3 separate regions of the Homo sapiens genome follow, and all the other regions are linked to region 2. Evidence: fine-mapped expression QTL. A gene starts in region 2. Each other region holds a variant in brackets. All regions are shown on one strand. Distances are between the middles of the regions. Region 1 overlaps TBCE (tubulin folding cofactor E). Region 2 holds the start of TBCE (tubulin folding cofactor E). Region 3 overlaps TBCE (tubulin folding cofactor E).

What was found. PIP is the estimated chance that this variant, and not a neighbour inherited with it, causes the effect.
Region 1: its variant is the best candidate, but not a certain one, in a credible set for the expression of TBCE in prefrontal cortex (ROSMAP, PIP 0.59).
Region 3: its variant is the best candidate, but not a certain one, in a credible set for the expression of TBCE in tibial nerve (GTEx, PIP 0.64).

What each region holds. Positions count from the first base shown.
Region 1 is chr1:235,428,169-235,436,351 of GRCh38, reverse strand. TBCE (tubulin folding cofactor E) reads right to left here. Exons shown (of 17, transcript NM_003193.5): 7 at 5,548-5,647; 8 at 2,072-2,148; 9 at 512-607. It also overlaps the pseudogene RPS21P1. Among named protein-coding and RNA genes, the nearest start is that of TBCE, 65 kb to the right of the region's middle. The variant T/G (reference allele first, on the strand shown) is at 4,129.
Region 2 is chr1:235,364,331-235,372,513 of GRCh38, reverse strand. It overlaps TBCE (tubulin folding cofactor E), which reads right to left and starts at 5,087. Exons shown (of 17, transcript NM_003193.5): 1 at 5,010-5,087. It overlaps LOC124904559 (a long non-coding RNA gene), which reads left to right and starts at 5,094. Exons shown (of 2, transcript XR_007066957.1): 1 at 5,094-5,304; 2 at 5,891-6,161. RefSeq lists enhancers at 4,788-5,127, 4,667-5,380.
Region 3 is chr1:235,441,170-235,449,352 of GRCh38, reverse strand. TBCE (tubulin folding cofactor E) reads right to left here. Exons shown (of 17, transcript NM_003193.5): 14 at 7,471-7,539; 15 at 6,442-6,501; 16 at 913-1,004; 17 at 1-683. The coding sequence ends at 591. B3GALNT2 (beta-1,3-N-acetylgalactosaminyltransferase 2) reads left to right here. Exons shown (of 12, transcript NM_152490.5): 12 at 1-2,163. Among named protein-coding and RNA genes, the nearest start is that of B3GALNT2, 59 kb to the left of the region's middle. RefSeq lists an enhancer at 5,923-7,122. The variant T/C (reference allele first, on the strand shown) is at 4,649.

The sequences.
Region 1 (8,183 bases), 64 kb before region 2:
ACAATGTAAAATGCTATGGGGTATCAACCAGACTCGGTTTGTAAATTTTTTTCCTACACCCTGGGTTTTTAATCCCATGTAAAATACTTAGAAACCATAAAGTCCAACTTAGGACATGCAAAGTGAACTCTTTATCCTGTATTCTAATGACTCCATAGTCACCTAATGGTTCTTGAGTACCTACTGCTATGTCAGGTGCTAAATGCGTCTCAGAGGAAAGAGACACGGTCTACTGCCCGGAGTTTAATGAATGAAGACTTTCCGCATTATCACCAGGGTCAAATTATTCATTCTTCAAATTATCTGGTACAGACATAGTCCACATTATACAGGGTTCACAAGTAAATTTTCTAAATGAATTCAAATGAAAATTTCCCAAAGGGAATTACTCAATTTAGAAATTCCATCATTGTTACCACGTTTCTATTGAGAAAGCATACATAGCATATGAAAACTGCTTCACTAAGAATTGACTGAACACTATTGTATCAGGCATTTAGGGGCAAATTACCTGGGCAGGTGGGCTATCAGATACAGCTGATTTTCATCAATTAATTGATTAGAGGAAAGATCTAATAACTTGACTGTCTGGAGAACATCTGTTGGCCTGTATGGAAAATAAAATTTTTTCACCGTGAATTTATCTCTTAATTGTTTTCAAAGATACAGCCTTAAAATCCCTGCATTTGGTGCGATGGAGGGCTGGGGATAAGAAGCAAGTAAATATGACTGTAAAGGGGCAACCTGAGTGGTCCCTGTGGTGATGCACATATTCCTGCCGGTATCAGTGTCACACCTAGCCTGTGATCCTATATCATAGTTTTGCAACTTGTTACCAATGGGGGAACCTGGGTCATGGGTACAAGTGATCTCTGTGTATCATTTCTTATAAAACTTCATGTGAATATATGATTATCTCAAAATAAAAAAATTTAATTTAAAAAACCTGCAGGCCAGGCACGGTGGCTCACACCTGTAATCCCAGCACTTCGGGAGGCCGAGGCGGGTGGATCATCTGAGGTCAGGAGTTCAAGACCAGCCGGGCCAACATGGTGAAACCCCGTCTCTACTAAAAATACAAAAATTAGCCAGGCATGGTGGCACGTGCCTGTAGTCCCAGCTACATGGGAGGCTGAGGCAGGAGAATCACTTGAACCAGGGAGGTGGAGGTTGCAGTGAGCCGAGATGGTGCCATTGCACTCTAGCCTGGGTGACAAGAATGAAACTCTATCTCAAAAAAAAAACAAAACAAAAAACCTGCATTTGCCTACATAATGAAACCCTTCTGTAAACGAAAATCTTTAAGATTCTGAATCCTTTAATTCAGAATCTGTTGTAAATTTTCCCACAGTTAGGTTAATTTTACATAGTAATTTAATATTATTAATTTAAAAAGGAGATGAGGCAACAATATATTTCAGAGAACAAAGTTTTACATGTACTTTGGTACAATGACCTTAAACAGATGATGCTAATGAAAAATACATTATTTAATCCTTATAGCATATCCTACAGAACTTCCATTTAGAAACAGCAAGTTGGCCAGGCACAGTGGCTCACAAGGTCAGGAGTTCGAGACCAGCCTGGCCAAGATGGTGAAACCCCGTAAAAGATGGTGAAACCCCGTCTCTACTAAAAATAAAGAAAATTAGCCGGGCATGGTGGCAGGCACCTATAATCCCAGCTACTCGGGAGGCTGAGGCAGAAGAATCGCTTGAACTCAGGAGGCGGAGGTTACAGTGAGCCAAGATCGCCACTGCACTCCAGCCTGGGCGACAGAGTGAGACTCTGTCTCAAAAAAAGAAAAAGAAAAAAAAGAAACAGCAAGTTAATACACTGATGCAAAACTAATATAACTCATGTCTTCACAAATATTTAATTCTGATGAGTTTCCTTTGATTAGAACCAATTAGTGAAATTCTAATTTGTGAAGGCAATGAATAATAAGCATTTTTCCTAATTCTTGTTTGCAAATCCTTCTAAAAATTAAGGTTAGATATAATTGAGACCATTTATTTACTCAGAATGATGATTAAATGGGGATAGATGCATTTAAGTAAGTGCTAGTTACCTTTCGGAAATGAAAATGTTGTTAGACTCAAGGTAGAGTTCCTCCAGGCCTGGGCACCCCGCGACACACCGCAGCACCTGGAAGAGAAACTCGGTTCAGGCTCAGGCGGCCTCTGCTGGCTGTTTCTTCCCGGGTGTTCATAGGAACCACCACAAGAATTCAGCTCAGTTACTGTTTCAGCAAACAAGTGCCTCACGGACAGTTCATAAGACTGTTTCAGGCCTGGAATAGTGGTGGGGGGTGATAAATAAAATGTTAAGGGGGTGCATTTTAATGCTGTGGGAGCACACACTGTGGGCACTTTGAGGCCTTGGAGGTACGTGTCAATGCATGGTTTAGGTAAAGCAGCTACGAGGTGGAACAGGAGATACTAACTGCACATATTATTATTTGATAGAATTTGCTTAACCAAAATAAGTAAATTGATGTTACACACCTTTCCTCAATTCTAAATGCCAATCTGGGTTTGTAAAGGATATGCTAATTTTTCATATCCTTTCATAAATTTCTCAACAATTATTTCTTCTTTCATTATTTTTTTAATTATACATTTTTTAAAGTTTTCATTATATATTTATGACAAATATTCTACATCCATGATTCTCTCCAATCAAAAGTTCTTTGAGATCGGGCACAGTGAGTTCATGCCTGTAATCCCAGCACTTTGGGAGGCCAAGGCAGGTGGATCACTTGAGGTCAGGAGTTGGAGACCAGCCTGGCCAACATGATGAAACCCATTACCACTAAAAATACAAAAATGGCCGGGTATGGTTGCACACGCCTGTAATCCCAGCACTTTGGGAGGCTGAGGCAGACAGAATGCTTGAGGTCGGGAGTTTGAGAACAGCCTGGCCAACGTGGTGAAAACCCATCTCTACTAAAAATACAAAAAATTAGCCAGGCGTGGTAGTGCACGTCTGTAATCCCAGCTACTTGGGAGGCTGACGCAGGAGAATCATTTTGGCCCAGGAGGCAGAGGTTGCAGTGAGCCAATATCACACCACTGCACTCCAGCCTAGGCAACAGAGCAAGACTCCATCTCAAAAACCAAATAGTTGAGATGACGCCCTTGGCCATGGCCAATTAGAGAATGGAATCATCTGACTCACCCATCCTGCAAACAGTCCTGCAGATAGCACAGGTTTTAAACTGGCTGTTAAACCTGCCCGTGACCTCACTGGCCTTGGCCACGTTCATCCGCATGGATGTGTGGTCCTTGGCACTGATGATGCAGTTGCTGGTGGAGCATTTCTGCAGCACGCACAGATCCACGAACTTGCTGGCGTCTTTCTGCATGTCGAGACCGTGCCTGCTGCCACCACACTGCGCATGAGCCTAATTTTTTTTTTTTACAAAAAAAAAAATTACAAAAAATTATTATATATTATATAATTATGTATAATAATATATAATATATATATAGCATCTACAGGATCTCTCTATGTTGCCTAGGTGGGTCTTGAACTCCTGGCCTCAAGTGATTCTCCTGCCTGGGCCTCTCAAAGTGCTGGCTGGAATTATAGGCGAGAGCCACCATGACCAGCCTCACCAACTATTTCTAAATTTTCTCACTGGAACTTTACTGCCATCTCCACCACTTCAATTTCTGTGTGCCCTTCCTAGTTTATTTGGAGGGTGAGATGCGTCTTGCTCTGTCACCCAGGCTGGAGTGCAAAGGTGCAATCCTAGCTCACTGCAGCCTCAAACTCCTGGGCTCAAGTGATCCTCCCACCTCAGCCTCCCAAAGCGCTGGGATTGCAGGTGTGAGCCCCAGTGCCAGTGTCTGGCCCCTTCTTGTCTTCCAGCTACATCTACACCTTGAGAGGGAGTAAGCGCCTCACAGAGGAGGGGCCCTAGGAAAGAGGCTCCATGGCCACGGGCATATTAAGGGCACAAGGGGCCCACCTGTCTCTCACTGAGTGGCCTCTGTGGCACTTCCTGGGTGAACATGGCTGGGAATGTATTTCTACACCCTTGGTTTGAAAGTGGAATGCCCAAGCTGGGCACAGTGGCTCACGCCTGTAATCCCAGCATTTTGGGAGGCTGAGACAGGCAGA[T/G]CATTTGAGGTCAGGAGTTCAAGACCATCCTGGCCAACATGGTGAAACCCTGTCCCTACTAAAAATACAAAAATAAGCTGGGCATGGTGGCAAGCGCCTGTAATCCCAGCTACTTTGGAGGCTGAGGCTGGAGAATTGCTTGAACCCAGGAGACGGAGGTTGCAGTGAGCCGAGATCATGCCACTGCACTCCAACTTGGGCAACAGAGCGAGACTCTGTCTCAAGAAAAATAAATAAATAAAAATGAAAGTGGGCTGGGCACGGTGGCTCACGCCTGTAATCCCAGGACTTTAGCAGGCCGAGGTGGGTGGATCACCTGAAGTCAGGAGTTCGAGACCAGCCTGACCAACATGGAGAAACTCTGTCTCTACTAAAGATACAAAATTAGCTGGGCATGGTGGTACATGCCTGTAATCCCAGCTACCTGAGAGGCTGACGCGGAAGAATCACTTGAACCTGGGAGGCGGAGGTTGCAGTGAGCCGAGATTGCGCCACTGCACTCCACCTTGGGCAACAGAGTGAGACTCTGTCTCAAGAAAAATAAATAAATAAAAATGAAAGTGGGCTGGGCACGGTGGCTTACACCTCTAATCCCAGCACTTTGGGAGGCCGAGGCGGGCAAATCACTTGAGGTCAGGAGTTCGAGACCAGCCTGACCAACATGGAGAAACCATGTCTCTACTAAAAATGCAAAATTAGCTGGGTGTGATGGCACATGCCTGTAATCCCAGCTACTTGGGAGGCTGAGGTGGGAGAATCGCTTGAACCTGGGAGGCAAAGGTTGCAGTGAGCCAAGGTTGCACCATTGCACTCTAGCCTGGGCAACAAGAGTAAAACTCCGTCTCAAAAAAAAAAAAAAAGAAAGTGGAATGCTCTGGGTGTGTGAAGTCAGTACACCTCAGACAGGAAATAGTACTGCCAGATATAAGTCCCAAATGCTGCTGTGCCAAGGACCCACAAGTCTACTTTTGAGCCCGGCTGTATAAAATGAACAGTGGATTCCAAGAGCCGAACTTCTAACAAGAAAAGTATGTGAGAACCTTTCTGCTGCTTGGCTTCTGTTCTAAAAAAAACTAACAGGAAAACTCAGGAAGCTAGTCAATAGCCAACACTACGGCTTTTTGAAGCTCAGCACATACTGGTTCATACCATAACGGAGCGCCACTGTTTATAAAGGCACCAGAACAAGTCAAAATGAGCTGAGATAGGACATGGATTTCCAGATGCAAAACTCAACTATGATGCTCTTTTAACTCGTTTTTATAAGGCACTTTAATGAATCTTGTTATCTATTAATAGATACTGGGATGATTTAAATGAAGCCACAGTTGTACTATTAAACTGTACTAACAATTCTCTATTAAACCAAACATTTTTAATTGCTTATTAATGTGTAATAAAACAAAGAAATATGATTACCTCAGCCCACGTTATTCCTGTTTGATTGAGGACTAAAACCTTCAGTACAGAAAGCGTTCCAGTTAATACTGAACCGGAGGGAAATTTTAGTTTATTTTCACTGTGTAGAAAAAAAAGATACAATGTACTTATTTCTATACAGTAAACCCAACTGAAATAGTTGTTGAAAGCAACAATCTGGGTTTTAATCTAAGGGGTTTGATTTGTTTCAATCTTAAAATGGAATTATATTTTAAAAATCACTTTTTTAATGATTCAAGTGAATCAAGACTACCTAATTTTTAACATTTACAACATACAACTTTTTGGTATCAGCTGTGTAAAGATGCTTTCACAGGATTAGGGCACCTGTATGCGGCTGTAGGCTTCCTAAACCCAAAACTCAGGCATTTGCAAGGTGAGCTTCCAGCTTCACAAGATATGGCTCTGGATACTGCAAAACAAAGTCCCGTTCTCCAGAGTCTTACTGATACACTGAATCATGGGCTAGAATTTTGCTTCTCTAAACATAGAGTCTGCCCTTTGGCTATGAGGATGGATGAAATTATTGCCCCTTAAATTATTTCTCAAAACCCTAATCTCAGAAAGTATTCAATCCTGACAGTCACTTTGAAAGACGATACTATTAAAAAACACAAGCCCGTATTTCCAGAAGATGAGACACCATGGGTTGAATTGCCCCCGTTTGCTCTATTTGGGAGCACAACTCATTCAGGCCTGTCTACCGGCTTTACTGTACACTCACATGTCTATGCAAAAATGGTTCAAGAATGAAAGGGGAAACCTGTGCTGGGCACGGTAGCTCACGCCTGTAATCCCAGCACTTTGGGAGGCCAAGGCAGATGGATCACCTGAGGTCAGGAGTTCAAGACTAGCCTGGCCAACATGATGAAACCCCGTCTCTACTAAAAATATAAAAATTAGCCGGGTGTGGTGGTAGGCACCTCTAGTCCCAGCTACTTGGGAGGCTGAGGCAGGAGAATCACTTGAATCTGGGAGGCGAAGGTTGCAGTGAGCCAAGATCATACCACTGTACTCCAGCCTGGGCAACAGAGTGAGACTCTGCCTCAAAAAAAAAAAAATGGAGGAAGCCTGGCTAAGCCCTTGGAAAGTTAGGTTCTGAGATTAAAACAAATTAAATATTCAGGAAGGCCTAGAAAAGTGTGACATTAGTAAAATAGGTAGATTAATGAAAAATCCTTATCAAAACAGAATTAAACAGTATCCCAATGAAATTACTCATTCCTACAGCAATTAAACGCTAGAAGTTTTCAAATAAACAAGCAGTTTTAATAATATCACCTCTCCTCTCCTACTCCCCAATTAAATATCACCTCCCCCAACCTTCCATCTTTACGGTCAGGCTAAAAATAAGATCTTGCAGTTCAATGAAAATCTAACTCATCCCCACCTGGTAAAAGTTAAAACACATTCCTTATTCATGAATCACCTCATGTGACCGTTTGCAAGGCTATAATAATCAATGTGCCCTTAAAGATTAAAGTGTCCTTAAAGAGGCGGGACATGGTGGCTCACACCTGTAATTCCAGCACTTTGGGAGGCCGAGGTGGGTGGAAAACCTGAGGTCAGGAGTTCAAGAACAGCCTGGCCAACATGGCGAAACCCTGCATCTACTAAAAATACAAAAAGTAGCTGGCAGTGGTGGTGGGCACCCATAGTCCCAGCTACTCAGGAGACTGAGGCAGGAGAATCCCTTGAACCCGGGAAGGGGAAGCTGCAGTGAGCCGAGATCGCGCCATTGCACTCCAGCCTGGGCGACAAGAGTGAGACTCTGTCTCAAAAAAAAAAAAAAAAAAAATATATATATATATATACACACATACATATATACATACATACATAAGGCTGGGCACAGTGGCTCACACTGTAATCCCAGCACTTTGGGAGGCTGATGTGGGCGGATCACAAGGTCAAGAGATTGAGACTATCCTAGCCAACATAGTGAAACCCCGTCTCTAGTAAAAACACAAAAATTAGTTGGGCGTGGTGGCTCGTGCCTGTAGTCCCAGCTACTCAGGAGGCTGAGGCAGCAGAATCGCTCAAACCCGGGAGGCAGAGGTTGCAGTGAGCCAAGATCACGCCACTGCACTCCAGCCTGGCGACAGGGCGAGACACTGTCTCAAATAAATAAATAAATAAATAAATAAATAAAGTGTCCTTAAAGATTAAATGTGTCCTTAAAGTTAAAGTTAGATAAATTCAAGTAAACCAAAATCTGGCTGTATAAAAATGTCTACTAGCGAAGCAGCTGCGTTGTCTGGGGTATACACCTGGTATTCCTCTTCTCCCACCAGGAAAATTTAGGACACAGACACATGAGGAGTTTAGGAGCAGAGGTTTAAAAGGCAAGAGAAAGAAGATGGAAAACAGCTCTCTCTCTAGTAAGAGAGAGGGGACTTCCAAGAAGAAAAAGGCAAGCTGGCAGCAGATGCAGATTTTTTGTTTGTTTGTTTGTTTTCTGAGATGGAGTCTCGCTCTGTCGCCCAGGCTGGAGTGCAGTGGCACAATCTCGGCTCACTGCAAGCTCCGCCTCCCAGGTTCATGCCATTCTCCTGCCTCAGCCTCCCGAGGAGCTGGGACTACAGGTGCCCACCACCACGCCCGGCTAATTTTTT
Region 2 (8,183 bases):
CACTGCACCCAGCCAATCATTTCTCTAATGCTGTTTATTTACAACTCCAAAGAAAACAGCTAAAAACAGCTTTGATTTTTAAAATATTACCTTATGAAGTATTTCCTTGGGAAAAATTCTTAAGATAGATAAATATGTTTAAGGTTCTACAAAGCCAGCCAGGAGCGGTGGCTCACGCCTGTAATCCCAACACTTTGGGAGGCCAAGGCAGGAGGATCATCTGAAGTCAGGAGTTCCAGAGCAGCCTTGCCACTATGGTGAAATCCCGTTGCAACTAAAAATACAAAAATTAGCCTGGCGAGGTGGAGTGCGTCTGTAATCCCAGCTAAATATGCACAGCAAAATTAAAAATTAAAATATAAAAATCAGCTGGGTGTGGTGGTGCACGCCTATAGGCCAATGTATTTGGGAGGCTTAGGTTGGAGGATGACCTGAGCCCAGGAGTTCGAGGCTGCAGTGAGCCCTGATCACACCACTGTACTCCAGCCTGGGCAACAGAGGGAGACCCTATTGTACAAAAAAATGAAAAAATGAAAAAAAGGGCAGGCACAGTGGCTCATGCCTGTAATCCCAGCACTTCGGGAGGCCAAGGCAGGCAGATCACCTGAGGTCAGGAGTTCGAGACCAGCCCGGCCAACATGGTGAAACCCCCACCTCTACTAAAAAAACAAAAATTAGCTGGGTATGCTGGCGGGTCCCTGTAATCCCAGCTACTTGGGAGGCTGAGGCAGGAGAATCACTTGAATCCGGGAAGTGGAGGTTGTAGTGAGCCGAGATCGTGCCATTGCACTCCAGCCTGGGTGACAAGAGCAAAACTCTGTCTCAGAAAAAAAGGTGGGGCCGGGTGCTGTAGCTCACGCCTGTAATCCTAACACTTTGGGAGGCAGAGGTGGGTGGATCAACTGAGGTTGGGAGTTTGAGACAAGCCTAACCAATATGATGAAACCCCATCTCTAATAAAAATACAAAAATTAGCCAGGCTATGGTGGCACACGCGTATAATCCCAGCTACTCAGAGGCTGAGGTGGGAGAATCACTTGAACCCGGGAGGTAGAGCTTGCAGTGAGCCAAGATCGTGTCAGTGCACTACAGCCTGGGTGACAGAGGGAGACCCTGTCTCAAAAAAAAAAAAAAAGGGAAAAAAAAAAAGACAAGAGTGGCCGGGGGCGGTGGCTCACGCCTGTAATCCCAGCAGTTTGAGAGGCTGAGGCAGGTGGATCATTTGAGGTCAGAAGTTCAAGACCAGCCTGACCAACATGGAGAAACCCCATCTCTACTAAAAATACAAAATTAGTCAGGTATGGTGGCGCATGCCTGTAATCCCAGCTACTGAGGAGGCTGAGGTGGCAGAATTGCTTGAAGCCAGGAGGCGGAGGTTGCGGTGAGCCAAGATCATGCAATTGCACTCTAGCCTGGGCAGCAAGAGCAACCACTCTGTCTCAAAAAAAAAAAAAAAAAAAAAAAAAAAAAAAAAAGCCAGGCGTGATAGCTCACACCTGTAATCCCAGCACTTTGGGAAGCTGAGGCGGGCGGATCATGAGGTCAGGAGTTCAAGACCAACCTGACCAACATGGTGAAACCCCATTTCTACTAAAAATACAAAAAAGAGCTGGGCGTGGTGGCGTGCGCCTGTAATCCCAGCTACTCAGGAGACTGAGGCAGGAGAATCGCTTGAACCCGGGAGGCGGAGGTTGCAGTGAGCCGACATCACACAATTGCACTCCAGCCTGAGCGACAGAGCAAGACTCCATCTCAAAAAAAAAAAAAAGAAAAGACAAGGAGGAAAAAAGCATAAAAATATGAAGTGTAGAAGATGGTGCAAAAACCCCAAATTCATTCAATCAACAATTATATTATGGAGTGTCTGCTAAAAGCCAGATACTATTTTAGGCAATTGGAATAAAACAGTAATGGATTTTACAGGGAAGTACAATAAGAGATCTTCCCAAAAAAAAAAAAAAAATGCCGGGTGCAGTGGCTCACGCCTGTAATCCCAGCACTTTGGGAGGCTGAGGCGGGTGAATCACAAGGTCAGCAGTTCAAGACCAACCTGGCCAAGATGGTGAAACCCCATCTCTACTAAAAATACAAAAATTAGCCAGGCATGGTGGCATGCGCCTGTAATCACAGCTAGTTGGGAGGCTGAGGCAGAGAATTGCTTGAACCCAGGAGGCAGAGGTTGCAGTGAGCCGAGAACGTACCACTGCACTCCAGCCTGGGCAACAGAGCAAGAATCCGTCTCAGAAAAAAAAAAAAAAAAAGAATACAGCAGTAAACAAAACAGAAAAATACCTGCCCTCATAAACCTTCTATGCCAGTGAGAGAAAACATAATAAACCAGATAAATGACTCTATCACATGGCATGTCATATGATGATAAGCACAAGGATAACGAGTGCAATGGAAATGTTAAAGATGGCAGTGGCTTGTCAGAGAAGGCCTTACTGAGAAGGTAAAGGTCCCCAAAATATGAGAGAGGTAAAGAACTGAGCCATGTGGACATATGAGGGAAAGGAATAGCAAGTGCAAATATCCTGAGGCTAGGATGCGCTTGAGGAGACCATACAGTAGAGCAAACAGGAGATGAGAACGACATGAGATCAGCAGTGAAGCAGGGCTAGGTCACATAGGACCTTCGATGAATAATCCACTCTGAAGACTTCGGCTTTTTTTTTTTTTTTGAGACAGAGTTTTGCCCTTGTTGCCCAGACTGGAGTGCAATGGCACAATCTCGGCTCACTGCAACCTCCGCGCCTGCCCCCAGGTTCAAGCAATTCTCCTGCCTCAGCCTCCCTAATAGCTGGGATTGCAGACACACACCACCACACCTGGGTAATTTTTTGTGTTTTTTTTTAGTAGAGACGGGGTTTCGCCACTTTGGCCAGGCTGGTCTTGAACACTTGACCTCAGGTGATCCACCAGTCTTGGCCTCCCAAAGTGCCAGGATTACAGGCTTGAGCCACTGCGCCCAGCCAGTTTTTGTTTTTTTTGTTTTTGTTGTTTTTTTTGAGACAGAGTCTTGCTCTATCGCCAGGCTGGAGTGCAGTGGCACGATCTCGGCTCACTGCATCCTCTGTCTCCCGGGTTCAAGCGATTCTTCTGCCTCAGCCTCCTGAGTAGCTGAGATTACAGGCACGCACCACCACGCCCGGCTAATTTTTGTATTTTTAGTAGAGACGGGGTTTCACCATGTTGGCCAGGATGGTCTCGACCTCTTGACCTCGTGATCCACCCACCTCGGCCTCCCAAAGTGCTGGGATTACAGGCATGAGCCACCACGCCCGGCCGACTTTGGCTTTCACTCCAGGTGAAATGTGTAGTCCTTGGAGGATTTTTGAGAGGAAAGACATAAATCTGATTTTTTTTTAAAGGATCAACCGAGATACTGTGATGCAAACAGACTAAAAGAGGAAAGAGCAGAAACTACTGCAGTAATTCAAGTACGAGACAACGTAACTTGAACAAGTGAAGGTGATAACAAGAGCCTGGGAGTGTGGACAGATTTTAAAGGTGGAGAGTCCATAGGATTTGCTGATATATATGGAAGAGATTAATCAGGGATGATACCAAAGATTTTCATCTAGACAAATATTTCAGTAGTGACAATGAATGTAAATCCAATAAACCTGCTAGTCAAAAGGCAGACTGGGCTGGGCACGGTGGCTCACACCTGTAGCCCCAGCACTTTGGGAGGCTGAAGCAGGTGGATCACCTGAAGTCAGGCCTTCAAAACCAGTCTGGCCAACATGGCGAAACCCCATCTCTACTACAAATACAAAAAAAAAAAAATTAGCTGGGCATGGTGGCACACACCTGTCATCCCAACTACTCGGGAGGCTGAGGTGGGAGATATGCTTGAACCTGGGAGGCGTGGTTGCAGTGAGCTGAGATTGGGCCACTGCACACCAGCCTTGGGCGACAGAGCAAGACTCCATATCAAAAAAAAAAAAAAAAAAAAAAAGCAGGCTGTCCACTTAGATTAAAAAAAAAACCCAGAGATATGCTGTTTACAACAGTATATAAAATATGAGCATACAGAAAAGTTAAAACTTAAGAATATGAAAAACGTTTGAAGCAAGTATCAAAACACAGCGGCCGTGGCTAAATTAATGCCAGAGAAAAGAAAAGTCTTCTCTCTTCATCTCTACCTCCACTAACTTTCTCTAACAGTTTGGCAATTTGTTAACCCCGTCTTCCTGCCAGGACTGCTTCTCTGAGGATAAGGCTGTCACACCATCATTTGGATCCACCCACAACTTAGAACAGTCCCCATTTGGTAGTAAACACCAAGTAAAAATAGTTACTTTAGGCCGGGCGCGGTGGCTCACGCCTGTAATCCCAGCAGTTTGGGAGGCCGAGGCGGGTGGATCATCTGAGATCAGGAGTTCGAGAGCAGCCTGGCCAACATGGAGAAACCCTGTCTCTACTAAAAATACAAAAATTAGCCGAGCGTGGTGGCACGCGCCTGTAATCCCAGCTACTCGGGAGGCTGAGGCAGCAGAATCGCTTGAACCCAGGAGGCGGAGGTTGCAGTAAGCCGAGATCAGAGATCCGCGCCACTGCAGTCCAGCCTGGGCGACAGAGCAAGACTGTCTCAAAAGAACAAACAGTTACTTTAAGTGCTCTCCACCTATTTAACGTTATTTCTCTGTCATCACCAATGTTAACTGATTCGGAAGGACGAGGCTGTTCCTCTAAGGTGACACCTTGTAAAAGTCGTTGGTCGCCTGTACCATTTTCACCTCTTCCAAAGTGACATGCCAATTCTCTGAGAGAAGCTTAAAATGCTAGAGATCACGTGCGGCTACTCCTAAATAAGGCCTTCCAGGAGGCGCAGGGTGGCCCCAACCCAGCCGGCTGGACCGCCTCCCAGCGCACGGAGCAGGCAACGCCCGGCTCTGGCAATCTGGGAAGATTCCAGGAAAGGAAGAAAAGGCCAAGAGCACTGCAGGGTGACGCACCGGCCAGGAATGCTCGTTCCGAAAGCTCCCCGAACCTCTGAAGCTCACCTGCCCGCGGAGACTCCAGGTGTTCCCAGCAGCAGCCCCTCCAGCCAACTGCCCAGCAGCGAAGCTTGAGGCTCTGGCCGGAAGTGCTGTAGGAAGTCCCGCCTCCACCGGAGTGAGGTACGGCTGCTGGAGCATAGACGAGAATGTCAGCGACAGTATTGGAGGCCAGAGGAGTGGTCAGCCCACCCAAGCCCCGCCTCTGGGCGGGGGCCCAAGCGATTTCCGAGTGCTGAAACCTGGGATGACAGAGCAGCCCAGGGAAAGCGCGTGTTCCAGTTTACTAGATACCACAGAAGTGAGTTACAAATCCTGTAAGAGGTTCAGTTCCATGCGTATTGAGAGTCTACCACGTAGGCAGCATGCGGTGGTCAAAGAGAAGAATATAGTGTTGATACCGCCAAAACTAAAAAAAAAAAAAAAATTACCTAGTTAAAGCATAAGGCAGAATGAAAGTAAATGCAGTGATAGAAAAAATAATAGAAAAAGCAACTATCCTAGACATGTTAATTTCTGTTGAAACCGCCTTTGCAAAATTTTGACAGTAAGAGAAATCTGACATGGTTTACTCCTATCTTGATTCTAGCCTCACAGACTGGCTGTCTTTGCTCATTCCTGGGCACAGGACAAACTAACTTTGGGAGAAATTTAGTTTATAGTTTAAATGATAATAACCCTTCCCCAAAACTGCCCTTTTAAAACTAAATGAAAGGCCACCAAGTTAGGAGAATGAGAGGGTCCTGAATTCTTCTAAGTTGTAATTGTAGTTAAATGATTACCACCCATTATTCCACAGGTCACAAATTCGCATCTTCCCCAATCATTCCTGCAGATAACATCACTGTTGTAGAACCTAAGATTGGCCTTTTGAGATGTCTTTTCAGGTTTTTGCATTTCTGACAAGTGGATGGCCCCACCCTGACTCATCAACCTGGGGATCCACGAACCAACTCAGTGCAAGAGGACAGCTTCTACTTCTTATGATTTCACCTCTGACCCAACCAGTCAGCACTCCCCATTCCCTGGCCCCGTACCTGTCAAACTATCTGAAAAACCCCCTAACCTCTGAGCCTTTGGTGAGATGGATTTGAGTAACAACTCTGTCTCCCACGTGGCATGGCCAGCCTCGCGTCAATTAAACTTTCTTTACTGCAATGCCATGGTTTCTGTCAATTAATTTTGTTTGTGCAGCAGGCAGAAAGAACCCATTGGTGGATACCACAGACTCCACAACAAGAGCAGTTTGGGTAGAGTGAGTGTTAGCATTCCAAAACCAGACTGAAGTGAGGTGAAGTGGAAAGGAAATTGAGGGAGCAAAGCCAAATGACTCTTCCAAGAAGTGACCTTCTAATTGTCATATTAAATGGACACAAACAGTCAGTATCCTGCTGGATGTCTCTACTGTTTTATACTTTGATAGTTCACTCCTTGAAACTAGAAACTAGATATTACAGTGATTGTTTTTTCTTTGGAAGAGGGGATTAAAAACCACATTGGAAATCTGATAAAAGCTATCTACCTACACACAAATTTTGCGTATGATTTCAAGGACTGATTAATCCTTTGAAGCCCATGAATAGGCCTCAAAGGAATCCATGGATCCCAAACTAAGACTCTCCTCAGCAGGGCACGGTGGCTCACACCTATAATCCCAGCATTTTGGGAGGCCGAGGCAAGCAGATCACTTGAGCTCAAGAGTTCAAAACTAGCCTGGGCAATGTGGCGAAACCCTGTCTCTAAAAAAACACAAAAATTAGCCAGGCGTGGTGGTAGGTGCCTGTAGTCCCAGCTACTCAGGACGTTGAGTTGGGAGAATCTCTTGAGCAGGGGAGACAGAGGTTGCAGTGAGCTGAGATCTCAACACTGCACTCCAACCTGGGCAATAGAGTGAGACCCTGTTTCAAAAAAGAAAAAAAGGCCAGGCGTGGTGGCTCATGCCTGTAATCCGAGTACTTTGGGAAGCTGAGGCGGGTGGATCACAAGGTCAAGAAATTGAGACCATCCTGGCCAACAGGGTGAAGCCCTGTCTCTACTAAAAATACAAAAATTAGCTGGGCATGGTGCTGTGTGCCTGTAATCACAGCTACTTGGGAGGCTAAGGCAGGAGAATCATTTGAACCTGGGAGGCGGAGGTTGCAGTGAGCCGAGATCGCGCCATGCACTCCAGCCTGGTGACACAACTAGACTACGTCTCAAAAAAAAAAAATTAGCTGGGTGGGGTGTGGTGGCACATGCCTGTAAAACCAGCTACTCAAGAGGCTAAGGCAGAAATTGCTTGAACCTAGGAGGCAGAGGCTACAGTAAGCCGAGATCGTGCTGCTTCACTCCAGCCTGGGGGACGGAGCAAGACTCCATCTGAAAATGAATACATAAATAAAGCCCTCACTTTTCCATTAGTTGGTGAGAAAAGAAAAAATAGGCCAGGCGCGGTGGCTGATGCCTGTAATCCCAACACTTTGGGAGGCCGAGGCGGGCGGATCACCAGGTCAGGAGTTCAAGACCAGCTTGGCCAATATGGTGAAACCTCGTCTCTACTAAAAATACAAAAATTAGCCAGGCATGGTGGTGCGTGCCTGTAGTCCCAACTACTTGGGAGGGTGAGCCGGGAGAATTGCTTGAACCTAGGAGGTGGAGGTTGCAGTGAGACCAGATATCACCACTACACTCCAGCCTGGGCTACAGAGTGAGACTCTATCTCAAAAAATAAAATAAAATAAAACAATGTGTAGCCAATCAATAACTTATTTTATTTTAATGTAAATTATTATTGGTAAACAACTTAGGAACTACCTCTTCTTTTTTCCTTTAAAAACCCACTTGTAGAGGCTGGGTACAGTGGCTCACGCCTGTAATCCCAGCACTTTGGAAGGCCGAGGTGGGCAGATCATGAGGTCAGGAGTTTGAGACCAGCCTGACCAACATGGTTAAATCCCGTCTTTACTAAAAATACAAAACTTAGCCGAGTGTGGTGGCATGCCCTTGTAATCCGAGCTACTTGGGAGGCTGAGGCAGGAGAATTGCTGGTACCTGGGAGGCGGAGGTTGCAGTGAGCTGAGATTACACCACTGCACTGCAGCCTAGGCAACAGAGCGAGACTCCGTCTCATAAATAAATAAATAAATAAATAAATAAATAAATAAATAAATAAAACAAAACCCATTTGCAGGCTATGCGTTG
Region 3 (8,183 bases), 77 kb before region 2:
AGTACATTTCAATCAAAGCTGGTTATCACAGAAGAAGATATACTCAGCTTAGGTATAATTGTAGGGAAAAGCATGTGATTAATTTAAGTACTCTTAGAAATAGTGCAACTGAGAAGACAGATAATAGCATATTGTTATACATAGTAGAGGATGTCTCCCCAAGTTTAAGGGACATTTCCCAAAATGACCAACCAAATCATTTCTAGTAACCCTTTAAAATAGTAGTTTCAATAGAGAATTCCATTAAAACTAGTCTTATGACAGATATTAACTGTGTTCAGATTTTATTAGGCTAGCTAGTTTCTTTCTATTTAATATTTAAATCTTATCATGAAATGCAGTGATGAGCTGTAAAAATAAATATGAAATAAGATCAGAAAATCATTAGTAGGTTCAAAGCCTTTATTATTGCTATTATGTATAAGCCTAGAAATGGTCACTTCCCAACAAAAAATACATCCCTTGTTATACTTAGGACAAGTTGTAAACCCCCTTTGTTTTGACAGTAGAATTGTTCCAGTGAATCATTTATTTCCGGTGAACCCCAGACACGATAAGCAGTGTGGTCTTTAAATTTTATTAGTTGGTTGTCACCATCGCACTAATAGACAATCTCCATTTTCCACAGAATAAAACTGTAATGACTTTAGGTCATTTTCCAGCTCGATTTCTCTGCCCGGCTTCTAAAATTAGAACGAAGGTGGGGAAGGATGTGATTAAGACAGATCCGATAAAGCATGCTACACATACTCTTCCCCCACCCCGTCCCCAGGCAGTAGCTTACCCTTAAAATCAAACAAACAGACCCATGGTCTCCATTTAGAATCAAACTGTTGCTATCTAGAGACAGTTTAATGTCATAATACGAGGACTAAGCTTGACTTTGACTTTGTATTTTGCTGGGCAACTTACTTTGGGACTTTCATAGGACAACAGAAGGTCTGACACAGGAACTTTGAGAAGACGTGACAGCAATCCCTTCACCTTTTGAATTGTCATGGAGCCTATCAAAAGACAAGAAAAGTCCATTCGTTCTCTCAAATGACAGTTACCTGTAAAACTAGCTCATGTGATGAGACCACAGTATCATTGCAATGATAGCTGTATCTGTCTTTTTTTTTTTTTTTTTTTTGAGACTGACTTACTTACTTACTTAAGTAAGTCTTGCTCTGTCGCCCAGGCTGGAGTGCAATGGTGTAATCTCGGCTCACTGCAACCTCCGCTTCCCGGGTTCAAACAATTCTCCTGCCTCAGCCTCCTGAGTAGCTGGTGCCCATCACCACACCCAGCTAACTTTTGTATTTTTAGTAGAGACGGGGTTTCACCATGTTGGCCAGGCTGGTCTTGAACTCCTGACCTCGTGATCCGCCCGCCCTGGCCCCCCAAAGTGCTGGGATTACAAGCATGAGCCCAGCGCCTGGCTGTATCTTTCATTTTACCCAAGTCACTTTACCCAAGTAAGTAATTAGGGGAAAGCCTGAGTCTTGTACCACCTGTTCATTTGGGGAACTGTGGGAAACGGAGCCAACGGACCTAAGTGCCCTTTGACAGTGAGTTTCATACCATTTCAGTAGTGTATTTCTTTCTTAATCTGAATAAACCAGAATGATACTCTCAGCACAGAAGAATAAAGGGAGCGAGTCATTAACGTTTTCTTTTTAAACCTTTATGATGACTTCCTTATGAATTACTGAACGAACACTGGAATGGGACTCAGGTATCCTGAGGACATCTCTCAACTCTGGCCTTAGTTCCCCCTCTGTAAAATTAGGGTGCCAACTAAATGATCTACAAGGTCCCTTCCAGCGCCGCCATTCTGTAATTACATCATGTGTAACTGTATTAAACATACACAAGTGACTGCCAGGCATGGGAATGTAACTTCCGAGTAAATGCTTTGGTTTGTTCAGAATACACTATGAACTTCTTTCCAAAGACGGGTTGTGGTAAATAGTGGATATTTTGATTATAAGAAATAGAGTTTCCTTGAAGCTTTAGCTGGAGATACAGCAATAGTGTGGTGTTCCTACAAATATCACAGTGTATTCAAACATATTTTTCTATCAAAAATCATTTTTGTAAAAGCTGTGTGTTTTTATCCAACTTGTGATAATAAATGTTCTTTATTTTAGAATAAAAACTGGCCTTTTTGTATGTATTGAATACAGTTAATAGAATTTATAATTTTAATTAACAATTTGCTCTTTCATGTGTGAATATGTGATAGTCTAGTCCTTTCAAAAGATTGAGACGGACTGGCTTTCATTGTTTGAAGGCTGGTGAGAGAAGGGGTTACCTGCTGCACACCAGTGGGGAGTGACATACTCCTAACACATGCCAGAAACAAAAAGTTTGGTCATAAAACAGTTCTAATAAGAAATCTGCCTGGCCTGCTCACACCTGTAACCCCAGCACTTTGGGAGGCAGAGGGATCAGAGCCCAGGAATTTGAGACCAGCCTGGGCAACATGAGGATACCCCATCTCTACAAAAAATAAAAAATTAGCCAAGCATAGCGATGTACGCCTCTAGTCCCAGCTACTTGGGAGGATCACTTGAGCCCAGGAGGTCAAGGCTACAGTGAGCCATGATCGCGCCACTGTACTCCATCCAGCCTGGGTAACAAAGTGAGAACCTGTCTCAAAAAAAAAAAAAAAACCTGCCTACTCATACCGGTTCTATAGAAGAAAGTAGCAATCTCTATGTAATAAATAGCATTACCATTTTTAATATAGTAACATGACTGTCTTAACATTCAGAAAATATGGAAATAGCTGATTATTTCTTTTTACCTGCCTATGACCAGTGTTAAAAATTTGAGAGGTATACCTCTAGGCCTTTTTTTTTCTGTGTTCATATAAGGATGTATAGGTTTTAAGCCAGGCGCAGTGGCTCACGCCTGTAATCCCAACACTTTGGGAGGCCGAGGCGGGCGGATCATCTGAGGTCAGGAGTTTGAGACCAGCCTGGCCAACATGGAGAAACCCCGTCTCTACTAAAAATACAAAAATTAGCCAGGCATGGTGGCGGGCACCTGTTATCCCAGCTACTTGGGAAGCTGAGGCCGGGAGAGTTGCTTGAACCCGGAAGGCAGAGTTTGCAGTGAGCCGAGATCATGCCACTGCACTCTAGCCTGGGTGACAGAATGAGACTCCGTCTCAAAAAAAAAAGGATGTATAGGTTTTATAATATATTGACGTACTACATTTGTATTTCTTTATGACATGATGGTATAGCTTTTCATGCCAATTCCATGCCATGTCCTCTAGCCATACACTGCCCAGTATGGCAGCCACATGTGGTACTGAGCACCTGGAAAGCGGCGAGTATGACTGAAGAACTCAATTTATTTTATTTTAATGAATTTAAATAGCCACATGTGGTTATTGCAGCCACACTGGACAGCGCAGCTCTAGACTGCTTCACTCTCCTCGGTGACACACGACAGTGCCTTGTGTGCTGTGTGGTTCCACCAGAGCTTATTCACCATTCCTCCGCTGGCAAGTACTTAGATTCTTACTATCTTTACCATTACAAATGCTGCAAGATACAATGCTTGGTCAGAGCATATGTGTATTTTTAACTTTTTATAGTAGTTCCCACATGACTTTAAAAAAGGGTATACTGCTTTTTCATGCCAGCCAGTATTATTTTAATTTTGCTAATCTAATGGATAAAAAAAAAGATATTGCAGTTTTGTTTTGTTTTGTTTTAATTTTAGACAGGGCCTCACTCTGTCACCCAGGCCAGATTGCAGTGGCTCAATCACAGCTCACTGCAGCCTCAACTTCCCAGGCTCAAGTGATCCTCCCACCTCAGCCGCCCAAGCAGCTGGGACTACAGGCATGCACCACCACACCCAGCTAATTTTTGTATTTATTTATTTTTGTAGAGACGGGGTTTCACCATGTTGCTCAGGCTGGTCTCGAACTCCTGGGCTCAAGCAATTTGCCCACCTTGGCCTCCCAAAGTGCTAGGATTACAGGTGTGAGCCACCATGCCTGGCTATTACTTTTCTGTTTAGAAGACATTTACCTATGTTAGTGGTTAAATATTCACAGCATGTGGCATAAGAATTAGTATTAAGAACCTTTGTATGAGTGAGTGAGTGAGTGCACATTTGAGAAACAGAAAAGCAAATAAAAAAGGGGAAAAAAAGGAACCCTTGTAATCTGCTGGCTTACTGCTGAATTTATAGAATATAGGACTCAGATTCTGAATAGTTTAAAGTAGTAATTCTTACATATAATTTCTATGGATAGTCGAATCTCTGCTAGCTACCCAAAGATTAATAAAAACAGCATGAATGCAGTGGGTGTTCCCAAAATGGCTAACTGAATCTCAGAAGACCTGGGATACCAGTCAGGTGTACAGTGTGGAAGTAGAGAAGGGTAAGGCGGCACTGTCACCCCCAGCCAAGGGCTGCATTCAGGCATATGCCCAGACGGCAGGCCTTGGCAGGTCTACCTCAGTGCCTTCCAGAGAAAGACTGAAAAGGAAAGCTTAACGAAACAGGTCTAATGACAATATTCTTGAGCAAATACTCTATAGTGGTAACATTCCCATGAATTGATTTGATGTATCTGCAAAGGCAAAAGGAAACACGCAAAGACATCGAAGGCCAAAAACATTCACAGAAAGTCCTGGCC[T/C]GCCAGGCATGGTGGCTCACACCTATAACCCCAGCACTTTGGGAGGTGATGACAGGAGAACTGCTTGAGCTCAGGAGTTTGAGGCCAGCCTTAGCAACATAGCGAGGCTTCATCTCTACTAAAAATCAAAAAAATTAGCGGGGTGTGGTGGTTCGTGCCTATAGTCCCAGCTACTCAGGAGGCTGAGGTAGGAGGATCACTTGAGCCCGGGATCAAGGTGATGGAGCCTGCAGTGAGCTGAGATGGCACCACTGCACTCCAGCGTGAGTGACAGCCAGACCCCATCTGAAAAAAATATATCAAAAATAAAACAGTCCTGGCCCTCTTTGACTAGTCTGTCTCCACCAGGGCCTTTACTGTCTGTCTAAGTTTGAAAACAGAATAATGAAGGGGGAAATCACTAATTCTAACCCATTATATAGCAGTAGCCAAATTACATATTACAGGAGTAGAAACTGGATTGTGAATAAATAAAAATGGAGACGTTGTGGTAAATTAAATGGATGGTTATCAATCAGAAAGGTACTTCTTTGAACACAACTAAGGCCTTCTATAAGCAATACCATGATAAGCTTGCTTTATCTGATAGAAACTAATTTAAAAATCAATGTGAATTTACTGCACTGATGGGCAAAGAAACCCAGTGTACTAGAGTCATTAAGCTGATGTGTATTTCATTTATTTAAATCCTCACTGCTCTAAATTATTTATATTTTAGCATTTAGCTATGAATCAAGTTTAATCTTGAGAATTCACAGTATCATGGCATACTCAAAAATAGACTATAATTTCATTTTTCTTTTGAGTGAAAGTTTAAGGTAAGTTATGTTGATCTACTTTATTGACACAAGCATATTTATTTTCCAAATAAAAGTAATTCAGTTCCAGTACCACAATTTTTTTAAGTTCTAAGGTAGCTTTCTCAAAGAAAACCATTTCAGGGTGTCCATTAAAAGAGCATCTGCGAATTGTTTTTGCAGGGACTCCTAATCAGTCAGGAGAAGTAGAATGTAAGCAAAGTCACAAACCTCCCGTAAGAATTTGGTTCACCAGGACACAGCTCCTCTCTTATGAAGGGATGAGAAGCAGACCCCAAACCCAGTGTCACAGTCTCCCTGGAAACAGCAGCAGGCTTGGGGAATGCTTCCAAAAGGCTATGCCATTCAAGGTCTCAGGTTTTTTGGTTAAAAATACAACTTAGGCCAACTGCAGTGGCTCATGCCTGTAATTAATTCCAACACTGGGAGGCTGAGGCAGGAGGATGGCTTTGAGCTCAGGAATTCGAGACCAGCCTGGGCAACATGGCGAAAACCCATCTCTACAAAAAATACAAAAATTAGCTGGGCGTTGGTGGCTCGCACGTGTAGTCCCAGCTACGTGGAGGCTGAGGCTGGAGAATTGCTTGGGCCCAGGAAGCAGAGGCTGCCGTGAGCTGAGTTGGTGCCACTGCATTCCAACCTGGGTGACAGAGTGAGGCCCTGTCTCAAAAAAAATTGTGTGTGTGTGTGTATATATATATGTGTGTGTGTGTGTGTGTGTAATTATATGCAGGGGCTTCCAATTTTAACAGAACTGCTTTCAGCTGATAAAGTTAGGGGAGACCTGAACTTTTGGGGGCATGGGGGAGTGATATTAGCATGATTGATTGTATTTTAGAATATAAAAGACTAATGAAAACCTGTAAGTTCTGAGGTCCACACTTTGAGACATGAGTTAAAGGTTTTAATTTTAGCTGACTCATACCTAGGCCGATGATTCAGAGTTTAAGGAAAAGACAGGCTGGTTCTTCTTACCCGGCAGTTGTTTCTCCAGGACTTTCTGATCAAGTTGATGAGGGTATTTTATCTTCAGTGCTTTAAGAGAAACAAAGAAAAAGACTAATTGATATCTACTATTATATGGATTTAAATTATCCACACACATCAACAGATGGCCAAATGATAGAGGTATTCAGTGCAAATTGGCAGGTCTAATCAATGTTTAAAATTCTTTCTATTAATCCTTCCATGGATTGCTAACAACAACAGAAATAGCTGGACAATACTTTCCCTTTTCCCCACTTAGTACTTCTTTCCTTACAGCTTGGCTAGGTTTTCAAGTCATAAATTCACAAATCACAATTTGGTTCACAACTCCAATACCTCCCACATTTATAACACTATTAAATGAGTTTAAAACATAGGAGTTACAAAAATGTATAAGAATTTAAACATGTTTTAAAGAATTCATTTCTTTGACAGGGCGCGGTAGCTCATGCCGCTAATCCTAGCACTTTGGGAGGCCGAGGCGGGTGGATCTCCTGAGGTCAGGAGTTTGAGACCAGCCTGGCCAACATGGTGAAACCCCATCTCTACTAAAAATACAAAATTAACTGGGTGTGGTGGCGCATGCCTGTAATCCCAGCTACTCGGGAGGCTAAGGCACGAAAATCGCTTGAACCCGGGAGGCGGAGGTTGCGGTGAGCCAAGATCGTGCCACTGCACTCCAGTCTGGGCAACAAGAGCAAAACTCCGTCTCGATTAAAAAAAATTAGCCGGGCATGGTTGTGTATGCCTGTAGTCCCAGCTACTCCAGAGGCTGAGGCAGGAGAATCGCTTAGAACCTGGGAGGCGGAGGTTGCAATGAGCTGAGATCACACCACTGCACTCCAGCCTGGGAGACAGAGGGAGACTCTGTCTCAAAAAAAAAAAAAAAAATTTTCATTTAAAACTCAAGGCATTTACTTAGGTACTTAAGAGGTACACACTTAAGAGAAACACACTAACTGTTTCAGCACCTAAGCACTCAAATACAAATAAACTATTTGAATCTGAGATTCTTACTTAGTAGCTGGTTTTTCAGCATAAGTGGTTGCTGTGTTTTGAGTTCCCAATCTTCAGGTGCACCATATTCTGTTTAAGAAAGCAAAAGAGATGAATGATAAACCAAAGGCCACTATAAGTAAAAACAAAACAAACAAACAAACAAAGGATAGGTAAGCGTCCAGAGAGCCTGTGCCTTTCCCAGGACACATGGAGCTGCCTTTATTCAGTGTGATTTTTAGGAGTGATGGACAACGACCACTTCCAAGGGCAGAATCTTCTATCTACCCAGAGCTGCAGACTCTGTAGCTTATCTAGCTCATTGTTAATGACCAGTGAAACTCAACAAAAGACAACAAATGAAAAGCAACATGTTTACATGTGTATTACATCATTGTTCCTTAGGTGTCCTGACTCAAAACTAGCAAGAGAAGACTGCCTTCAAATACTTCAAATGTTTTCCCCGAGTGTCACCTTTGGTAACAGTTCTCTTTCTGCGCTGACAGAAACCTGGTGCCACCTGAGACACGATCCACAGGACACTTCTCACGTTTCCACCAGACCGTGCAGTGCCAGGCTGGGTGCTCAGTACCATACTGCAAACCAGTTCCTAGGCCTGGACCACAGCCTCCACAGGAGAGGAGGAAAGCAGTACTTTTTTCCTGCTCTAGGCCAAACAGTGACAACATTTCTCTAAATCCCCCCATCTATCTGTGCTTTTGTCTTCTAACATT